Homo sapiens: one gene and its partners. The protein of the gene in region 3 purifies or fractionates together with the protein of the main gene of each other region. This does not show direct contact. Each region holds a gene or a part of one and is shown on either strand. Other genes may lie near its edges. The genes, in order: CCDC198, DPY19L1, NEK9, ZAR1L, CAP1 and BOP1.

The links.
Region 1: the proteins of NEK9 (region 3) and CCDC198 purify together in Homo sapiens (affinity purification with mass spectrometry, with the first as the bait; one large-scale study listed by BioGRID). This does not show direct contact.
Region 2: the proteins of NEK9 (region 3) and DPY19L1 purify together in Homo sapiens (affinity purification with mass spectrometry, with the first as the bait; one large-scale study listed by BioGRID). This does not show direct contact.
Region 4: the proteins of NEK9 (region 3) and ZAR1L purify together in Homo sapiens (co-immunoprecipitation; one large-scale study listed by IntAct). This does not show direct contact.
Region 5: the proteins of NEK9 (region 3) and CAP1 fractionate together in Homo sapiens (co-fractionation; one large-scale study listed by BioGRID). This does not show direct contact.
Region 6: the proteins of NEK9 (region 3) and BOP1 purify together in Homo sapiens (affinity purification with mass spectrometry, with the first as the bait; one large-scale study listed by BioGRID). This does not show direct contact.

What each region holds. Positions count from the first base shown.
Region 1 is NC_000014.9:57,487,354-57,490,887, forward strand, and holds part of CCDC198 (factor associated with metabolism and energy), read right to left. Parts: intron 1-3,534. UniProt on the Homo sapiens protein: May be involved in tuning the metabolism, energy expenditure, and excretion processes.
Region 2 is NC_000007.14:34,936,456-34,939,989, forward strand, and holds part of DPY19L1 (protein C-mannosyl-transferase DPY19L1), read right to left. Parts: intron 2,921-3,534; coding exon 2,821-2,920; intron 1,665-2,820; coding exon 1,539-1,664; intron 1-1,538. UniProt on the Homo sapiens protein: C-mannosyltransferase that mediates the C-mannosylation tryptophan residues on target proteins.
Region 3 is NC_000014.9:75,103,031-75,106,564, forward strand, and holds part of NEK9 (serine/threonine-protein kinase Nek9), read right to left. Parts: coding exon 3,472-3,534; coding exon of another isoform or gene 3,436-3,471; intron 2,967-3,435; coding exon 2,920-2,966; intron 968-2,919; coding exon 812-967; intron 1-811.
Region 4 is NC_000013.11:32,308,862-32,312,395, forward strand, and holds part of ZAR1L (protein ZAR1-like), read right to left. Parts: intron 3,233-3,534; 5' UTR 3,065-3,232; coding exon 2,411-3,064; intron 1,871-2,410; coding exon 1,778-1,870; intron 1-1,777. UniProt on the Homo sapiens protein: mRNA-binding protein required for maternal mRNA storage, translation and degradation during oocyte maturation.
Region 5 is NC_000001.11:40,039,438-40,043,550, reverse strand, and holds the start of CAP1 (adenylyl cyclase-associated protein 1), read right to left. Parts: upstream 2,823-4,113; 5' UTR 2,750-2,822; intron 2,526-2,749; exon of another isoform or gene 2,408-2,525; intron 2,123-2,407; exon of another isoform or gene 2,058-2,122; intron 1-2,057. UniProt on the Homo sapiens protein: Directly regulates filament dynamics and has been implicated in a number of complex developmental and morphological processes, including mRNA localization and the establishment of cell polarity.
Region 6 is NC_000008.11:144,264,475-144,267,455, forward strand, and holds part of BOP1 (ribosome biogenesis protein BOP1), read right to left. Parts: intron 2,707-2,981; coding exon of another isoform or gene 2,140-2,706; exon of another isoform or gene 1,979-2,139; intron 598-1,978; coding exon 443-597; intron 358-442; coding exon 240-357; intron 143-239; coding exon 41-142; intron 1-40. Other genes in the region: SCX (basic helix-loop-helix transcription factor scleraxis), read left to right, coding at 2,140-2,706. UniProt on the Homo sapiens protein: Component of the PeBoW complex, which is required for maturation of 28S and 5.8S ribosomal RNAs and formation of the 60S ribosome.

The DNA of each region.
Region 1 (3,534 bases), about 18 Mb from region 3:
TATGGGGGTTGCAATGTCAATTGATTGGTCAGGGTGGGTCTTATAGGGACAGTGAGATTTGAACAAATATTTGAAGATGAGGGAGTTATCCAAGGAGATCATCTGAGGACACACTATATGTGTGGGGGAAACACCTCCAATTTAAGCTAGACCTGAAATGGTTGGATAAGAAGGTGATCAGGCCAGAGGGGACAGTGCTAATCAACTCCTCAATAAAAAGGCCCATTTGATTCGGAGTTCCCTGGCAGAGGCTCTCAAAGCCTCTCAGCTCCAGGCTGGATAACGCTAGTTCATGACTTGCTCTTTATTTGAGGAGTAGATGTTTAGGAAGTAGAAGGTGCCAAAAATATATCTCAAATAATTTAGCATACAATTAGATTTGGTTTAATAATTTAAAATAATTTTAGAATTTTCTTTGGCAGAAATTAGGCTATTAATTAGCATGTCATGAGGACCCAGCATGTATTATTCTCTCAAAAACTCATTTGTGCTGGAAAATGTGCTGAGCTTCATTTGTGAAGATAATTATAGCTGATCTCTTTGGGAGTGTCTGCCAAGTTTCTAGTGATTTCCCTCCTCTCTGGGAGCTGACTTCAGAGTCTACAGGGGAGATGACTCTGCCCACATATCTACTGCATGAGCATATCCTCTGGCCATAGCTCATTGGACCAGAGCTGAAATCATGAGCAAAGCTGAGCCGATATCCTTTCTCCTAGGAATCTGGAATTGGAGTCAAAAAGGCCAATCTGTCCATTTGACTGGAACTGTAAGATACAAGCTCAGGGTGGCCATATTTCATTGTGTACCTGAAGAACAGAAAAAACTGATCTTTGGGGAGAAAGAGTATAGCAAATGCACAGAGAAGAACTTAGGGATTGAGAGAGCTCTGCATTTCAGGTTGCAAGGTATAATTCTTCCCTGAAGCTTAGGTGTCTCCCAGATCTTTGGTTCAATAAAACATTCCTATATCCTTTGATTAATCATGTTAGTTATTTTTGCTAGTCAATGAGACTTCTAATACAGTCATGTTACAGTGATGGTACAGACTTCTAATACAGTGATTACAGGTCTGCAGTAGCAGGGAGTGCACTTTGAGTGCTTTATCCCCCCTCCAGCAGGGATGATGGGTCTCACTGTCATTCATTTACTCATTCATTTTACTCACAAACCTTTGTGGATCTCATATTAAGTATTAATGGCTGAAGACATAAGATTGAATAAGACATAGTCTTTGCAACCTACAGAATGGGAGAAAATTTTTGCAGTCTATCCATCTGACAAAGGTTTAATATCCAGAGTCTGCAAGGAACTTAAACAAATTTACAAGGAAAAAACAAACAACCCCATTAAAAAGTGGGCAAAGGACATGAACAGACACTTCTCAAAAGAAGACATGCATACAGTCAACAAACATGAAAAAAGCTCAACATCACTGATCATTAGAGAAATGCAAATCAAAACCACAATGAGATACCACCTCACACCAATCAGAATGGCTATATTAAAAAGCCAAAAAACAACAGATGCTGGAGAGGTTGCGGAGAAAAAGGAATGCTTTTACACTGTTAGTGGGAGTGTAAATTAGTTCAACCATTGTGGAAGACAGTGTGGTGATTCCTCAAAGACCTAGAGGCAGAAATACCATTTGACCCAGCAATCCCGTTACTGGGTATATACCCAAAGGAATATAAATCATTCTATTATAAAGATACATCGATGCATATGTTAATTGCAGCACTGTTCACAATAGCAAAGACATGGAATCAACCTACATGCCCACCAGTGATAAACTGGATAAAGAAAATGTAGTACATATACACCATGGAATACTATGCAGCCACAAAAAGGAACGAGATCATGTTCTTTGCAGGGACATGGATGGAGTTAGAAGCCATTATCCTCAGCAAAACTAACTCAGGAACAGAAAACCAAACACTACATGTTCTCACTTATAAGTGGGAGCTGAACAATGAGAACATATGGACACAGGGAGGGGAACAACACACACTGGGGCCTGTCAGGGTTGGTGGAGAGGGAGAGCATCAGGAAGAACAGCTAATGAATACTGAGCTTAATAGCTAGGTGATGGGATGATCTGTGCAGCAAATCACCGTGGCACTTATTTACTTTTATAACAAACCTACACATCCTGCACCTGTACCCCTGAACTTAAAAGTTGAAGAAAAAAAAGGCACAGTCTTTGCACTGAAATAATTCATTTGTCTTGATTCTTTGTTTTTAAGATGGTTGGTTAGGGTGTGTGTGTATGGGGGTGGTGGTGCAGTGTTTGACTCTGAAATACCAATGTTCTCTTTTTGACCTTGTTTGACTATTGAGAAAATCAAAACCTAACCTCCTTTGTTTAGGACTGATAGATATAAAAAGTACTTGTGAGCTATAAAGTACTAGACAAATATTTTTTACTAGAGTAATATCTTCTATTTGAACTAATCAGCTTAGAGGCTTCACAGAAACATGTATTAAACTCATCCTTTGAAAGGAAGTATTTGATTTAGGAATAAAACACATTTTAAACTGCCCTGTTTACCTAGAGGATTTGTAAAAACTTGTAAATTAGATATTAATTTGTTATATTTCATTTTATTTTTCTTTATCTAAATAATGATTTTATAGTTTCTAATATTTTGGGAAAAGATACTCTTTTGAGACAAAATGATACAATCACTTCAAATAATGGCTGTGAGCTTCTGCAGAAGACAGGTAAATAAAAACCAACTGAAACAGAAATAATCCCCAACAAATGAGCTCCAGTACCCCTGGGATTGGTCCAGGCATCTGGGTGAATTGTGTAGCAGGTGGGATTTGGCTTCAAATGTCAGTGATAGATCCTGCTCACAAGAGAGCCCCAAACCCTCCTTCCAATGATGCTCATTTTCAAGGACCACTCCAATCTACCCATTCCCTTTCTAGGTTGAGAGTTCTTAAAATGTATAGCTAGCTGCAGAGAACCCATTAAATATTTATTGGGGTGAATGCGTTTAAAGCTCTTGCTTTGCTTCCTTGGAATCCAGTGTCCCGAATTTAAACAACCAGTTAACATCTAGAACAATAAAAGGTTAAAGATAGAAGGACTATAGAAATTACTTATGCTGACAGTTAAGAGTACAGACTTTGGAGACCTGGTTGATATCTGGCCTCTGTGAGTCTTTGGGGGTAGTTACTGAACTCTCTGACTAGCATGTATAAAACAAAGATAATTCTTCCTTTTTCATAGGTGGCTAAGAAGATTAAATGAATGACATAGATTGAATTGCCTAGTATAGTATCTGACTTGTAGTAGGGTGTAATTAAATAGTAGTAGCTGTTATTATTTATTACAAGTTGTTTTCCCATAGTCACCCAACTAATCAGTGCTAGATTCAAGCCTCTTGAATTCCATGGTATCTATGTCCTTGCTACTAGCTTCTTTCGGTGGCTGGTCTTAAAAGCGAAATCATTGCTAAAGGAAATCTTAAAGTAATAGAGTATTTGCGATTGATGACATTTTTCTTTAAGAACATTCTCATTAATAGC
Region 2 (3,534 bases), on a different chromosome or scaffold from region 3:
AGTTGTTTCAAGAGAGTGAAGCCCAAAGAAATAAAGAAGATCCCCATTCTGGTAGAAAGCTATGCTAAGAACTGAGTTCTTCCTATTGCAAATGTCAGCCTATCATTCATTTCATATAATTTCCTAAGATCGTCATGAGATGCTTAGAACTTTTCTGTCCTAAATTTATATAACAATGTTAAAGGTGAGTATGTGAATTTCATATACATATTCACAAACGCTTAAAACATTTTCTGAATTATTACAAAATAACATTTTCTATAAATCCTGACTGAATTCAAACCACGTAGCACACGTTCATAGGAGAATCATTCTATAATCAACAATTATTTTAGTTTCCTTGTGAGCAAAGCTGTAGATACTATGTCACAGAACTATTTTTCACTCACGACTCAGTATTTAACAATGTTGTCTTAATACCATATGTGTCATTGAAATATATGGTGGGAAAGTGTGATCAAGCCACAAATATAGCAATCTCTTGAACGCTTTTGTTTAGTTACAGAATAGTAAGAATTTAAAAAATATTATTATTCCATAAAATAGTGTTTATTTCTGATAAAATTGTTCCTGTACTGTGCTCTTCATGAAGTGAATGTTTTGGTACTTTAAAAGCAGGCTACTGTCACCTGGTGTCCAGTCACTTACGTGCCACATTTCTAGATAGCTTTAGATTCACATCTGCTTTGAAGATCTTACTGTCACTTGGAGCTATACTCAGCTTAGTAAACATCTCTGTGGAAATAGAAACTTAAAAACTATAAACCCAAGAGAAAGTGGGTCACAGTAGAGTCATTTTCCCATTCAAGTAAGATGTGAAACACCAGGAAAGAAAAATTTCATTCTGAGTTTTTGCTGACAGGGTATCCCATCCATCGACAGGACATGGTGTAGCACAGAGACCCAGTAAGGATAATGTGACCCCTGGTGCTCAGCTGCCTGACTTCACCAAAAGAGACTCCCCATTACTTGGTTTCAGACCCTGGAAGTCTTTTGAAAGAAAATACATCCAACTTTAAATAAAAGTTTCTTTTAAAACATCAAAGGCAAATATGAACAATTTGGGAGATTATCAACTAGTGCCAATAAAATCTCTTTAAGGTAGTATACACATACAAATCATTATTTAAAAAAAAAAGATATTTATAAAGACTATAAAAGAAAGTCTCCAAATCATTATCTAAAAAGTTTTTTCAGGCCAGGCGTGGTGACTCACGCCTGTACTCCCAGCACTTTGGGAGGCCAAGGCAGGAGTAGCACTTGAGGCCAGGAGTTTGAGACCAGCCTGGTCAACACAGCAAAACCCCATCTCCACTAAAAATACAAAAATTAAGTGGAGCTTGCAGTGAGCCCAGATCATGCCAGTGCACTCCAGCCTGGGCAACAGAGTGAGAGCCTGTTTAAAAAAAAAAGAAGAAGTTTTTCCATGTATACTTTATGTTATATACACACCCCCGCCACCAGCAAAGCATGTGCCATGTGCTTGAATTAACCTTCATGTCTTATGATTATAAAATGTTAACTGTGTTGATACTCACTTGGATCTTCTTACACACCATGACTCTTCTAGAATGTAATAGTTCACTTTTAACTTTATCAGTTCTCGCTTCACTTCTTCGGCTGCTTTCCGACTATACATTGAGTATACTATTTTTGTTCTGGCTCTTTAAAGAAAAATAATTGGGCATAAAATTTTCAAGACTAAAACGATACAATAACACATTTGGAAGAAAGCACTGAATTAGACTAGAAGACGATGAAGAAGAATCCAGTCAGGAGGAAATTCCCCATGGAAGTTCCCGCTAAGGGGCATCAGTGAGGTCAAAAGCAGAAGGCAGGAGGAGGACAAGTTGTGGAGAAGAGGGTGACCTTTAACACACCCCTACATTCCCAAACTTGGTCTCTTTGTGTTTGTTCACTTATTTATTTGTCTTAAATTCTTCACTTCGCTATCACATGTAAGAGTAAGGTACCCTGTGTGTGAACAGGGATGAACTACAACAAACACAACTATAGGACTACTGTGAAGCTGCAACAGTCCCAACTTAGACATCAACAATAATTCACATTAAATGGTTCTTCATTTTATTTCTAGATTTAAGAAAAACTAAACTTATTTAACAAAATTGGTCTGGAAATTAGCTTGATGAGATTGATTTTTTAATGAAAAAGCTTATTTGTGAATGTACATGCCATTGTTATGAAAAAGAAGATGCTAATAAGATTCACCTAATCACTTAGAAAATGAATAGCTTCACCTGCCTTAGAAACTGCAAGAAAAATTAAATTTTTAAAAAAAAATTTGGACAACACATCTCTAAATTATTTTTTAAAGTCTCAAAAAAATCTAAAAAAACATAAAACACCCAAGATCATTCTAACAGGCTATACTGGTGAAAACCAGAATAAACTCCTCTTTGAATGGGATTCTATTTCAAATGACTTCTCCAAACTCAAGAAAAATCACCTATGAGAAAACCTTAATAAACACTCTAAGCTAAACTCCCCAGGGAGTTACAGGATGAAAAGGACTTGGACATTTTAGAGCCCTGTTAACCTGTGGGAAAGTGCTATAGTATGACTTCGTTTATATGCCTGGTAGAGAAGAGAGCCCCCAAAGTTGTCACTTTCCTGCCCTGTGAAGCTTTAACGGATTTGTTTAGAGCTTAGCGGTCTTATTTCAGCTTTCTGCTCCCTGACTCGATAAGCCTCAGTTCATCATATCCTTTTGAAACATTCCTTATTACTTTGCTGGTGTCCTCCACTCACTGTCTGTTTGCATGGGAGGTTTGTTTTGATGATGCAAGACTGTGCACTGACCTCAAGCCTGCGTCTTCATAATGTGGATGATTCACAATGGGCCGAAGTGCAGAGAGCTTAACACTTGCCATCGTGGGCATGGCACCCGCAAACACTGCATCTGGAAGGCAAGAGGAATGTCTCAGGAAGACACTCAGTGAAGGCGAGAAGGTGTCTCCTTCAAGTGTAAATCAATTATTTCACAGGTAACAGAGCGGAAGCCCAGCAGGTTCATGACTTCAAGATTCAATGGCAGAACTAGCATGAAGTCAGATGGCTGATAAAGTAGCAGTTGGCAGCCAGGCCTGGGTAAACTATTTTCCTTGGAAAACAGAGCTTCATCATCTCATCATTAAAGATTTCTTTCTTTCTTTAAAGAAAAAATCTTAGAAATCTTTCCTGAATCTAAAAAAGAAGTATCAAATGGACTAGGAAAGCTTTACAGTAACAAGGAGTTCTGGAAGATGATTTAGTATTCAATCATTTGATACTCAGATGACAACAAAGTCTCCCTTTCCACACATGAATAAAATGTCACATTCCATGAGTTTATTTCAAGAAGGAATGTGAAGGACTAATATTAAAAATTCATTAAGAAAATAAGCACAGGAAAAATTATTTTAAATGTGGCATTTATGACTGTGAATAAATTTTGAAAAAATTAAAATCTATAAAAAATGGCAGAATAAATTACTAAGAACATATGTATAACATTTCCCCTGCAAACCATTTAAA
Region 3 (3,534 bases):
CGGGGCCTGTCATAGGGTGGGGGAAGGGGGGAGGGATAGCATTAGGCGATATACCTAATGTAAATGACGAGTTAATGGGTACAGCACACCAACATGGCGTATGTATACATATGTAACAAACCTGCACGTTGTGCACATGTACCCTAGAACTTAAAAGTATAATAAAAAAAAAAAAAAGGAAACTAAGACAATATCAGTGGTGAATTTGCTAACATTTTTGAAGACAGAATGGTAATTACATTCGATAAGCCTAAACAGGATCAGTGATTTGGGAGAAATCTAAAAAACTCCAATCAATCAAAAAAACTCCAGGAAGGTGATGCATGGAAATATGTTTTTTTTTATAACATTAATTTGCTTGTTCCTATTTCAATAAGGTAAAAGCTGAATTTCATCATTTTATTCTTTGTAATCAATTTATTTGTTGAAGTATAACACACTGCAAAATATCACACAGCTTGACACATTTTTCTATATACATATACTGGTAAAACCATTACAGATCAAGATATAGACCATTCCCATTACTCTAGGATCCCTTCCACCTCTTCTGTTAATACCCCTCCTTCAATAAGTAGCCACAGTTTTGATTTCTGCCAGTATAAGTTAATTTTGCCTGTTCTTAAATTTTACACAGATAGAGCTATATAGCATGTACTCTTTGTGGCTGGCTTCTTTTTCTGCACACAATGCCTATGAGACCATAACTAAAGTCAAATTCCATGGTCACTAACCAATAATGGCATCTCAAAGAAATTCCAACCTAGAGAAATTCTGATGATGTGGTTAGAACACCAATCAGGACACTCACTTCATGGTTGATAATTCCCGACATGCACTGATTCAGACCCAGCTTATTGAATTCATTGAGTCCACAGGCCAGCACTTTGCCTGACTGGGTCAACAGAAATGTCCCATCACAGCCACATTGAACTGCAACAATAATCAAGGCCTTGGGAACATCCACCTGCAAGAAAAAAATCAGAAAAAGAAATCCCAAATATATAATTCGTATTAGAAAAAAAGCTCTCAAATTCTTTCAAAAGAGACATGCTGCATTTAGCAGAATGACTACAGGAAAGTGAGGACTGCTCTATTCTTTTCAGGTTTGCCCAGTGTCTTAGAGACTACTTTTTCTTTTTTTTTTTTTTTGAGATAGAGTTTCCCTCTTTTGCCCAGGCTGGAGTGAAGTCGTGCGATCTTAGCTCACCGCAATCTCTGCCTCCCAGGTTCAAGCGACTTCTCCTGTCTCAGCCTCCCAAATAGCTGGGATGACAGGTGCATGCCACCACGCCCAGCTAATTTTTGTATTTTTATTAGAGATGAGGTTTTGCCACGTAGGCCAGGCTGGTCTCGAACTCCTGACCTCAGGTGATCTACCCACCTTGGCCTCCCAAAGTGCTGGGATTACAGGTGTGAGCCATCACGCCTGGCTGAGACTACTATTTTCTTTTCTTCTTTTTTTTTTTGAGGTGGAGTCTTGCTCTGTCGCCCAGGCTGGAATGCAGTGGTATGATCTCAGCACACTGCAACCTCTGCCTCCCAGGTTCAAAGCGATTCTCCTGCCTCAGCCTCTTGAGTAGCTGGGATTAAAGGCGTGTGCCACCATGCCCAGTTAATTTTTGTGTTTTTAGTAGAGACAGGGTTTCACCATGTTGGCCAGGCTGGTCTCGAACTCCTGACCTCAAGTGATTTGCCCGCCTCGGCCTCCCAAAGTGCTGGGATTACAGGCGTGAGCCATTGTGCTCGGTCAAGGCTACTGTTGTCAACGAAGAGCTCAAGTTTTACAATATCAAAGAAAAGGTGACAGTTCCAGGTCAACTAAACAAGACAGCACCCTCTCAGTTTGTCTTAGTAATAGGTCCTACTTAGGGTGACCTGTCAAAAAGTTGAGAAAGAAGCTTCAATTCATTGCTGATTTTGTCCTTTGAGATGGAAGGCTGCTTGACAGTTACAGAAATTCAGTAGCCCTGTGGGGTCCCAATCTGGTCATTTTATAGGAGAGGTGACAGAGTACTGAGGTAATATCTAGGACTTCCAAATGCTCATATCTTTTTACAGCTAACTAGACAGGACTGGAGAAGGTGGGGTGATGCATGTGTGGGGTCACAATGGATGTGTGTAAAACCTGAAACCTCAACCCTCAGTTTCTGCCACAGCCTTTCCAGGAGAAAAGGAACAGCTGGGAATCCCATTGAGGATGGTCCCTAGAAATGCATAATAATTTAATTTTTAAAATATAAATAAAAACTGGTTTGGCTAAAAGTTCCCAAGGAAAGAAAAAAAAAAAAGAAAACAGAAAACCCAAAACACTGCTAACAATAAATGGTATAGCTGATTTAGCCAACCCTCCAATGGGTAAGCCTGTGCCCTAGGGTAGGTGGGAGAGATGTGACTGTGCTTTTCCCCCAGCTGGTATCAGCCTCTGTGAGCCTCTCACAGGGCCAGCTCTGGCAAGGCTGAGAGTAATTAGATAATATGTTTCATGCAACATGACCGCTAAACAAAAACAACTATTAATATTTCATCTGGTGGTCAACTGTAGAAACAGGAGAGGAAAATGGCTGTGTTGGGTTAAGAGACAGTATACTGCTTTACAGTATCTTCTCGAGTTTTCCAGGGTATTTGTAGCTATATGTGACTTTTCTGCTGTACACGCTGATTTTAGCTGTCATCCCTGAGTAAGATGTGACTTCACAATGTCCACAGTCGCTGTATCCACTTTCTCAATTTTCTGTGATTTGGTCAGATGACAAGACCACAGGGTGCTAAATCAGGAATCCTAAATTGTCAGTCTCCCAAACAGGAAACACTTCGGAAATAAATACCTTGATACAACAGAGCCAAGGAAAGAGGACATATTATTGGAGTCTGTGCGACTTAAGATAGGTTTTAGAAATAAGTTGCTTCTGATTTTACCTTTTGTGGTGTATAATAATCCTCTTCTGAATCCAAACCCAGTCGTCCTGAAACACACATAAGAATGAAAATCATTATAATGAGGGCTTCCTTCCCAGTGAATAGGTTCTGTAAGATTCTCTTTTGCCAGGTGCGGTGGCTCACACCTGTAATCCCAGCACTTTGGGAGGCCGAGGCAGGTGGATCATGAGGTCAGAAGTTCGAGCGAGACAAGCCTGGCCAGTGTGGTGAAACCCCATCTCTACTAAAAATACAAAAAATTAGCTGGGTGTGATGGTGTGTGCCTGTAATCCCAGCTACTCGGGAGGCTGAGGCAGGAGAATCACTCGAACTCGGGAGGTGGTGGTTGCAATGAGCCCAGATCATGCCATTGCACTCCAGCCTGGGTGACAGAGAGAGACTCTGTCTCGAGAAAAAAAAAAAAAAAAAAAAAAAAGATTTACTGAATTAACACTTCTCATTTAGGGGCTGCATGATGGGTTTAGATGCATACAACTTTGAAGTCAGGTTGTATACCTGTGAAGAAGTGGACAGAGACAAGGCTACCCCTACCATATTCGCCACAGCCCCAAGAATAGACTTCCTTGTTTCGTGTCAGAACCACCACATGATTAT
Region 4 (3,534 bases), on a different chromosome or scaffold from region 3:
AACTTCTACCCTTGCCTTGCCTTTTATCTTGCTTTTACCAACCTCTACCCTTGGGGTTTCAAGGTGTACTAGTTCTTATTAATCACTTTTTCTTTGAATCTAATTTTCCTTACCCATAAAATTGGAATACATTTTTTTTTTTTTTTGAGATGGAGTTTTGCTCTTGTAATCCAGTCTGGAGTGCAATGGTGGGAAATCGGCTCACTGCAACCCCCGCCTCCTGGGTTCAAGCGATTCTCCTGCCTCAGCCTCCTGAGTTGCTGGGATTACAGGTGCCCGCCACCACACCCGGCTAATTTTTTGTATTTTTAGTAGAGACTGGGTTTTGCCATGTTGACCAGGCTGGTCTCAAACTCCTGGCCTTAAATGATCTACCCACCTCGGCCTCCCAAAGTGCTGGGATTACAAGCCTGAGCCACCGCATCCAGCCAGAATAATACGATTAATACTTACTTTTTCCATAGTTCTGAGAACTCCCTAATAATGTACACCAAGTACCACAGTAGATACTCAATGGGAAGTGGCTGCCATACTTTTTGTCCTTATCTTTTAGCTCTTACATGTTTCATTTTTCAGTATTTCCCGGCTTACACTTTAAATTACTTGTGGTTACCCATCAATACCACCTGCTTTCTAGGCTTTGTGCAATTTCCTGTGCACATTTTCTCTCTGCCTTGCTTGGTGAACTCTTCCTCCTATTTATTGTTTCAAATCCTGCTTGGACATCAAGCTGTCTTCCCTCAGACAGAGCTAATACCCTCCTTCCTGTGCTATCTCTGCACTGCTTCCATATGAAGAAGGATGCTACTGCACGTATTGCCAAATTACATTTTGTTTCCATCACTCGTATCAAAATAAATTCCTTGAGAACAAGTCCTGTGTTTTGTTCTTTGTATCCTAGTGCCTTGGAATGTTTGAATTAAACTCATTTTTCTTCTGGCAAGAGAAGGAAGTAAATTCAACTTCAACTTTAAAAATCTATTCACTCTCTAGGTCTCTAGTAAATGGCTAGTGTGAGAAATCAAGTTTTCATCCGGAACTCAATGCCTTTTTGCCCTCTCTCTCCACAGTCCTTTGGCCAGTAAGGCAATTTCTAAACATGCGACAGCACAGGGCGTTCACACTCAAATGCTTATGGAGGTTAATAACATCGGGCCACGTAGACTGTTGCAAAACGAGGTGCACAGGGCAAGGAAAAGAAGAGGAAGCCTTAGGGGCAGCCTGCTGTTCTCATTCTCAAACGAGGGTCTCTAATGACCAGAGCCTACAGGATTCACGAAAATGCAGAAATGCAGAATTTAATGTGAAGCCTTTTCCAGTCCTAATATGTTGGCAATTAAATTAGGAAGGGGGCAAAAGAAACTTTAGGCGTAGCCTAAGTCTCTTACAGGCAAATCTTTACAGTAAGTTTTTTCACTTATTGCCCCACCTTGTGGACAAACAGTGGAAATTTCCTAGCGCTAAGGCCCAGACCTGTTCCAAGCATACCAACTAAAAAACGGTTAGAAAAACTTCCAATGTAGACAAGAACAAAAGTTCATCTAAGTAACCTGACATCTTGTCATATATAACGCCAGAGTATGGTTCGGAAACCCAGGTGGACAGTCCGATTCAGTTCCATTCATTCACTGAGCACTTCCTGTACACCTGGCACGGGGGATGCCACCAAGATCAAGACAGGACTATGACAGCCATGCTCCCTCAGGAATCAGATTCTTCCCCGCTTACCATCCGTGCCCACCCCATCCTCCTCTCACCTCCTACTCTTTTTATTTACCTTGTTCGTTCCAGAAATGCACCACACGTAAGCACTCTCCCACCTGGTCTTACAATCTTTACAGTGGAAATAGCCATATTTTGGTTCCAAAAACTGAAAATAAAGAAGAAAAGTACTTTACCATCATGCAAGGGGAAAAAAGCCAGATCCTTCTTTATGACTTTGTATAAGGAAAAAAAAATGACTTCTTTAACCTCACTTGTATCTATTCTCAAGACTACGGCATTGATTCAGTTTCTCATCTCTCTTAAAGATTACTCTGGGATTCTTCTTGCTGCTGTCGTTTGTACTTTTCCAATCCATTTTCCACAATGCTACCGGCACAATCTTCCCAAAACGAAAGTCTGATTTCATGTATTACAGACTCGAAGCCCTTCTTCGTCTCCAAATTCTCCAATAGCAGTGGTTGCCAGACTGTTGGTTTTCACAGGCTTAGTTTGGGTTGGCACCTATTTTACCCAAAACTTACCAAACATACAGGCCACGTGATATACATATTTTCAGAGCTCCCTCTCCTTCACCAAGTACATGGAAGAAGAGAGAGAAGATTTTGCTCTTATTGCCCCCATAGATGGAAAAGGAGGGAGGGGATGAGGCTGGTCGAGGACTAAGAAGAGGGAAGAGAGGATCTACCTGGAAGTTGGGCCTCCGGAGCGGCTCGGAGGCGGCGTCTCCAGGCACCTGCTTGCTCTTCGTCTCCTGAGGGCACGGGGCGTCTTTCTCCCCCGATTCCTCCAGCTGCCCGGGCTCCTCCTGCCTGTCAGCTCCTGACCTCCGTGATGGTGGCTGCGGCTGGCTGGCCTCCGCAGGGCCCGGGAGCGCCTTGCTCTCCGCTTCGTCCCCATCTCTCCGCAGGCGGATCAAGCCCCTGCGGCCGGTGGCGGGCGAAGTGACCCCACAGGCTGGCAGGGGCTCCTGGGGGTCTCTGCCGTCCCAGGGGGAGCAGCTGCTGAGGGTGCGAGGCCCCAGAGAGCACTGCACAGCCTTGTCCACCCGCGGGCTCACCTGCACGCCCACCTCCTTGGTGTTGGGCTTGCACAGCCGCGGGCTCAGGCTGGGGTTCATCTGGGAGAGAATGGCCTTAAGCTGCGCCCTCTTGTAAGGGTCAATGCAGTAGTCAGGGGCGTTCGCGGGCACCAGCAGCCCTGGCCTGGCCAGAAAAGTGGGAGGACCCATATTTTGCCTCCAGTCGGGCTGTTTGTGCCCTGAGAGTCCAGGCTGGCCCAAAGGCACTGTGCTCCCATAACCCTGGTACAAGCCATAGGGAACACGGACAAAGCGCTCCATCCGCTCTCAGGTGCTCAGGCGCAGTCTAATATCCTAGCCAGTTTGTTTGGGTCCTTATTTTGCCTTCCTCCTTCATCCGCCCCTTCTTTCTCTTCATCAGGTTGGTTCAGATTCATTCCTGGCTTCTCCATTTATTTCAGATTCTAATGGGAGCTGCTGCTTATTACCCTGATTGAGGGAGAGAAGCTCTATCTACAGATGTCTAATTGCCACCTGATTCCTACCTAATTGCTTTTCCCTACCTCTTCACTGTTCGGGAATCTTTTTTTCAAAGCTGTTTTTCATTTCCAGCTTATTCACACATATGCTTTAATTAGTGATTAATTCATATATTCCTGTAGTGACCATTCTAAAGATCCTTTGTAAGGTAATGTGGTAATGTTAGATAATGTTTTAAGGTACAGCCATTATGGACAACAGTATGAAGGTTCCTTAAAAAAGTTAATAGAAGTACCAGATAATCCAGTAAT
Region 5 (4,113 bases), on a different chromosome or scaffold from region 3:
TGCCACCCACAAAATCAAATCCAAACAAATTCAACAAGGCATTAAAAGCCCTTCACGCCGGGTGCGGAGGCTCACACCTGTAATCACAACACTTTGGGAGGGCGAGGCAGGCGGATCACGAGGTCAGGAGTTCGAAACCAGCCTGGCCAGCATGGTAAAATCCCGTCTCTACTAAAAATACAAAAATTAGCCGGGCGTGGTGGCGCACGCCTGTAATCCCAGTTTCTCAGGAGGCTGAGGCAGGAGAATTCCTTGAACCTGGGAGGTGGAGGTTTCAGTGACCCGAGATTGTGCCACTGCACACCAGCCTGGGCAACAGAGCAAGACTCCGTCTCAAAACAAACAAACAAACAAAAAGCCCTTCACAACTTGGCCGACATCTAACCTTTTTTGCAGTCTGGTCTTCTGCAAAACTCCAGGCCCCAGTATCACTGAACAATTTAGGCCCTCTCCTGCCTCCGTATCTTTACTCTTGCTCTTTCCTTTAGCTGACCCACCTTATTAGACATCTTTGCCTGGATGTGCTACAAACACCTCAAACTAAAAACATTCAAAATGCATTTTTTCCCATGTCACTTCCCTAATTTACCTCTCATACTCTCTATCTGAATGGTACTACCCATTCAGTTCCCTAAGCCAGAAAGCCAGGCAATCGCGCTATTCTTACCTCTTCATTCCCATAATCAGCCTCCAATTCTATGGATTCTATCTTCTTAATATTGCTCACATCTGATGCCTCCTCTCCATTCCCATTTCCACTGTCTTAGTTCAGGCCATGTCTACAGCAAGAGCTTCCAAACACTGTTTTACTTCCCCACAGGGCTGGTCCCCTCCTACTTGACAGAATGAACTTTCTGAAATATAAATCTGACGACATCATTTTCCTGCATAAAACCCTTCAAAGCATCTCCATAGCTTTCAGGGTAAAAATCCAAATTCCTTAGCATGACTTACAATGTCCTCCACATATGACTGACCTGACCACATCTCACTTCCTCCACTTCCCCAGCCATTACTAGAATTCCAGTCACACTGAACTCGTCATGGTCTTTCAGCTGTCCGGTTCTCCAGGTCCTTGCACCTGTAGTAGTCTCTGCCTGGAAATCCCTTTTCCGGATTCCCTATGTAGCTAAATAAATATTTCAAGAGTTAGCCTCCCATTTCCTCCTGGAACCCTGGGCACCTGGCTCAGGTATTTCTCCACTGTGCTCTTGTAGCCCTGTGCTATGCACTATGACACTGTAAGCCATCCCTCATTTACTTGTCTATTTCCTCTCCCACTGTAAACTCCAGAAGAACTGTATTCTTTGCCACAAAGGCTATCTCATTAAAATGTGCCTCATACATATTAAGGTCTTAATAAACGTCTGGTGGGGCCGGGCACGGTGGATCATGCCCGTAATCCCAGCACTTTGGGAGGCCGAGGTGGGGGGATCACCTGAGGTTAGGAGTTCGAGAGCAGCCTGGCCTTCACGGCGAAACCCCATCTCTACTAAAAATACAAATAAATAAATTAAATAAAAGTCTGGTAAATGATAAATGTGCTGATATGCCCCCGGATTTTCTCTTGAAGAGAGAGCCCCACAAAGAGCTTCAACTGACACAGTTCTGATGCTAACCTGTCTCAAATGTTCTCATTCCACTCTTCGAACGCATTCCTATTTATCCTTCAAAATTCATCTTAAAAACTCTGCTTCTTCAGAAGGGCTTTTCCTGAACCCCCTGTTACATACTTTCAGAGCACCCTGTTCTTTCCTAACACTCATCAACATTTATAATTACTTCTTAAACATCCCTGCAAACACTGCTAGCTCCACGCGGGCAGGGTCTACATTGTTTTGTTTTAAAGCTGCATTCCCCGCATCTGGGAAAATGCTGGCACAGAATAAACACAATTTGTTACGCTGAATTTAATCTTGTGGGGTCAGCAGAGATCTCCACTTAAAAGATGAACAAAAGGAGGCTGAAAGAAGTTTAAGGCACCTATGGCCACAGACACTCAGCACTGAGGCCAGACCAAACCTGAGCCGTCTGATTTCAGGTCCAGAAGTACATACCTTCAATGTTAGCCTGGCTTGTCAAAGTAAGAGCAGCAGCCGAGGAGGAAAGGGAGGATATCTGCCTGTAAATACAAGGATGTGCCCGCCTTTCTTTTAAAAACTCCCTAGGCATTTCAAACGGCTCAATTTGGGAGGAGAGAAAAAAAAAAGTTCCACGCAGCGCTGGCCTTTAACCTGCAGCAGCCTGCGGGGCAACACCGACCGGAAGACCATCCCAAGTTAGAGAGGTTCCGAGCAACACGGGAAGAACTGGGGCTGGTTATCTAAGGCACCAGGATCATGATTCCGATTCTTTTCCTCACTCGCTATATATCTCAGACTAGCCTCTTCTCTAGGGATCAATTTACCTATCAGTGCAATGGGAGCATCAACAGGAGACAGGGAAGACTCTCCGATCTCGGAGGTTCCTTCCAGTCAGAGCACCTCAGGAATCAGGCCTCCGCTGAAGCTGATGGGCAGCGCTGCGAAATCGGGCAGAGGGGCCTCCCCGGGGCACCCGGACTCAGCTGCTCACCCCGGCCCCACCTCAAGAGACCGCGCCCAAGAGTCCGGGTCGGCCTGAGGGCCTCAGCCCCGGCCCTCTCGGCAGGGTTCATGACACGCGCGTAGGCCAGAAGGGCCATTAACACCACCAGGGGCCGATGGGCCCCGGAAGGGACCCCAATCCCTACCAAGCTGCACACCCTCACCTCAGAGTTCCGCCTCACCTCCGGACTGCGATCAGCCGCTCTCCGCTTCCGGCAAGAACCGCCCAGCAATCTCCGCGCGACCCACTTCCGGGCCCTCACTGGGCGCGGCGCCCCCACCGGAAATGAGCCGCCGGCTGAAGCGCTAGGCTGGCCCGCGACTGGGCAGGAAGTCTCACCGCCCCGCTCGTGACTCCGCCCCTCTTCGCCACGCCCCGGAGAGAGCGGCCCGGCTCTCACAGAGGGCACTTGGGAAAGAGCCCCGCCCTCAAGGCGGGAGCGACACGGGGAGGGCGGGCTCACAAGAGAGGCCACGCCCTCGTTCCGCTTTACCTACCCGGAATCGCCCCCGAGGCCCGGGCCCAGGAAGGGCAGAAGTCCCTGGCTAAGCTCCTCTCTGGAAAGAACAGAAGAGTGACCAGTTCCTCTGTCAGTTTGGTCTCAATGGCAGAGGCCGGTTCCTTTAAGCTGCAGTCCGTAAAGGGTCTTGGAACGACTGGGGGCCAGGATTCTCTGAGGGCGGGAATCCGGGCGGCCGTCAGCTCTCGGTGGTGATCGAGGCCACGCTCCGCCTGTCTCTGGGCGTGCATACCTCGGTTTCCCCGTTTGTGACGTGGGAAGGCAATTAGTCTGGACATTGTTGTGGGAGGACTTGCGGAGACTGGGCGCAGGGCGTGGGGGTCAGTGAGGGCGCGGTGGGTCAGCCCCAGCCCGGCTGGCAGTCGCGGGGCTGGGAAGGTAGGGAACCCTCCGCTCTCACCCCACTTCCTGTTTGGTCGGTGTGTTCTGTGACCATAGATGGTCAAGTCTGGGGCCGCGCGGAAGCCTCCGCCCTGTGGTTTTGGAGCCCTTCCTCCCGGCGCGCAGGGTGTGGTCCCCGAGAATAAGATGAGCAGAATTAAAGCAGATCCTGCACCCACTCTGCTGAAATCCGGCTTCTGAGGCAGCCTCGCCCAGGGCTGGGTGGGCTCAGGCGGCTGCTACTCGGTTCAGGGGAGGTTACGCACGGTGGCTGCCGCGCGCAGGGGAGGCTTCGCTTCCGTACTCCTTGGGCCGGGAGATCCGATCTTTGTTCCCTCAAGACTCACACTCTCCAACCGGTCATTATCCTCCCACAAAGATTTATTTCTAGAAAAAATTGGCAAGTGCCACAGTTCCCGCCCCTTCAGCTGAACGACTGTGACAGCTCCGTGTTTCAAGTTGAATGCAGGCGTTATGTGCCAGAGTCAATCATTCAACAAATAAAGTTCTTAAAATAACAGCTACCATTTACTGCACGCTGACTACTTGCCAGGCCCATGCTGAGTTCTTCAAGCGTATTTTCATTTACTCCTAATAGCAACTCTCGGTGGTAGGTACCATTATGC
Region 6 (2,981 bases), on a different chromosome or scaffold from region 3:
CGGTCAGCCCAGGCCAAGCCCCAGGGGCTGTGTGCCCCACCTTCTCCTTCTCCACCAGGGAGGGGATGAAGCTGCGCTTGTCGGCCGGGCGGTTGGTCACCGGGTGGATCATGACGTCCCCGCTGAAGAAGTCGACAGCCGGCTGGGGGAGAAGATGTGGGCGTGTGGGCCAGAGTGGCTGAGGCCCTGCTGGTGCCTCCAGGACCCCCGCCGCCCAGGGGCCAGCCCCTGCCACCTACCTCATAGGGGTTGAAGCCCACATCCCCAAACTGGCCACTCTGCAGCCGCCGCACCAGGGCCACCTGCTCATCCGTCAGTCTCAGGTCCCGCCCTGTCATCGGGTCCTGCACGGTGCGCCTGGAGACCGCCAGTCAGACCCCGCCAGCCCTGCCCCACCCCTCGGGCCCACCCCGGCTGCTGGCCCCACCCCACCAGCCCTCACCAGTAGTCAGGATCGTCCATCTTGTCCAGGAACTGGTCCAGCTCATCCCGGGTCCGCAGGGGCTTGTAGATGCGCCTGCCATCCAGGTCGTAGCCCACGTGGGGGAAGTCATCGTACCACTCCAAGGGCACGTTGCCCACCGTGTTCCGGATGTCCTGCAGCCGGGGGCCACCATGTCGGCATCTGATCCTACAAGGCCCACCCCCGCTTCGGGCCGCCCAGGGGAGCAGGTGAGGGGGTTGCAGGGGGAGTGCAGGCCCAGCCTCAAGTGCCCTGAGGTCACTGGCCCTGACCTACGCCTGTTCCCCAGCCCTGGGGTCTGACGTGGCATGGCGGCCACGCTGCCCCCACCCCCGCCCTCGGAGGCGCCGGAGCTGCACCTTCACATTTTCCACTGAAGTGGTGCCAACCCCAGAGCTCCCCCCTCACTGGATTCCTTGGCCAGGGCTCTGGGCAGCCACAGACAGGGATGACCTCATCACCCACGGGCTCCCTCCCCTGGCAGGGGCCTTAGGCAGAAGTGGGCAGCTATAAGACGGGGACTCGGGGAAGACCCCAACTGACCCATTCCACAGAGAGGCAGAAGCCAAGACCTCTCTGTGGGGGACCCCCCACCGTCTGCCCTCGGCCCCTCCCCAGGCAGAACAGCCACGTTCCTGGACGTACATTCCTGGTTGCAGCCCCTGCCAGCCGCCACCCTCGCTCCTTCCAGCCTGGGGACCGCTGCCCAGGAGGCTGCTTCCTGCAACAGTAGCCACGGGGAGGGGCCCAGGCAAGACAGAGCACAGCTGGGAGCCTGCCGGGCCCCCTGCTGCAGGAGGGACCCCTTGGGCCCTGCCCCCTGCTGAGGGTCCTTCCCTCTCCTCCCCATGGAGATAGGGGGCCATCCCCAAATTGGATAATGGGGGTATGTGTGTGCTTCCTGAGGGGCCTGGTGGCCCTGGAGAGGAACGGGGGAAGGAGGAAGGGGCAAGGAGACCGACGGGGTGAGAGGTCCACACAGCACAAGAACAGGGGACATGGCCAGCTAGCAGAAGGCACAGTCTGTGCCAAGCCTGGAGAGGCAGGTGCAGGACAGACAGGCGGAGAGACTGAGCTCTAGGCCCCTAAATACTCGCCTGTGCCCGCCCCCTGCACACGGCCTGGCACAGGCAGGCGCTGGCGCACATGGGAGGCAAAGACAGACAGGGTGCGGTCAGGCAGCAGGGCCAGGGCGGCTGGGTTAACTCAGTTGTGCCACGGGAGAAAACGGGGTGGTGGGTTCCTCCCCTCTCCCGGGGACGGGGGGCACTGCAGTTTTGGGGCCCTGAGTAACTACAGCCCAGAAGCGACCTCCCAGTTCCTCCGCATCCCCAGAGACGGAACGATGCCCCCAAAGACCAGCCCCGCCCCCCCCACCCCCGCCAAAGCGTGGCCACAGAAGGCCGAGGGACGCGGCGGGCGCTGCTCGAGGAGCCTCCGGGCTGAGAGGGGCGGGGCGTGCGCGGGGGAGGGGCCGGGACGCCGCTATAAAGGCGCAGCTCGGGGCCCCGCTCCGGCCCGGGACGCACATGTGCGCGCGACGCCCGGCAGCTGCCACCGCGGGGCGCAGCCGAGACCCCGCGCCTCGCCCCGGCCGGCCCGCGAGGCCCGCGGCGGCCGCAGGAGGCGGCATGAGCAGCGCGCGACAGAGCTGACGCCGCGCCCCCGCCGGCCCCATGTCCTTCGCCACGCTGCGCCCGGCGCCGCCGGGCCGCTACCTGTACCCCGAGGTGAGCCCGCTGTCGGAGGACGAGGACCGCGGCAGCGACAGCTCGGGCTCCGACGAGAAACCCTGTCGCGTGCACGCGGCGCGCTGCGGCCTCCAGGGCGCCCGGCGGAGGGCGGGGGGCCGGCGGGCCGGGGGCGGGGGGCCAGGGGGCCGGCCAGGCCGTGAGCCCCGGCAGCGGCACACGGCGAACGCGCGCGAGCGAGACCGCACCAACAGCGTGAACACGGCCTTCACGGCGCTGCGCACGCTGATCCCCACCGAGCCCGCCGACCGCAAGCTCTCCAAGATTGAGACGCTGCGCCTGGCCTCCAGCTACATCTCGCACCTGGGCAACGTGCTGCTGGCGGGCGAGGCCTGCGGCGACGGACAGCCCTGCCACTCCGGGCCCGCCTTCTTCCACGCGGCGCGCGCCGGCAGCCCCCCGCCGCCGCCCCCGCCGCCTCCCGCCCGCGACGGCGAGAACACCCAGCCCAAACAGATCTGCACCTTCTGCCTCAGCAACCAGAGAAAGTTGGTGAGCACGGGCCGTGGGGCGCCGAGGGGGGCCTCCAACGCGCCCCTCAGCCCACACCTGCCAGGCAGAGGAGGCGAGGCCACACGGGCAGGGCTCCCCAACAGGGCACAGGCAGGCACACCTGTAACACAGGCCTGCCGGGGGCTGGGGCCTTCTCCTGGGGCTCCTCTCCAGGGCGTCCCTAGGACACTCGGCTCCCAGTGGAGTGTGGAGTCCCCTGCAGGGAGCTGCATGAGGGGTAAGAGCTAGGGATGGCCAAAGGGGCCCACCCAGGG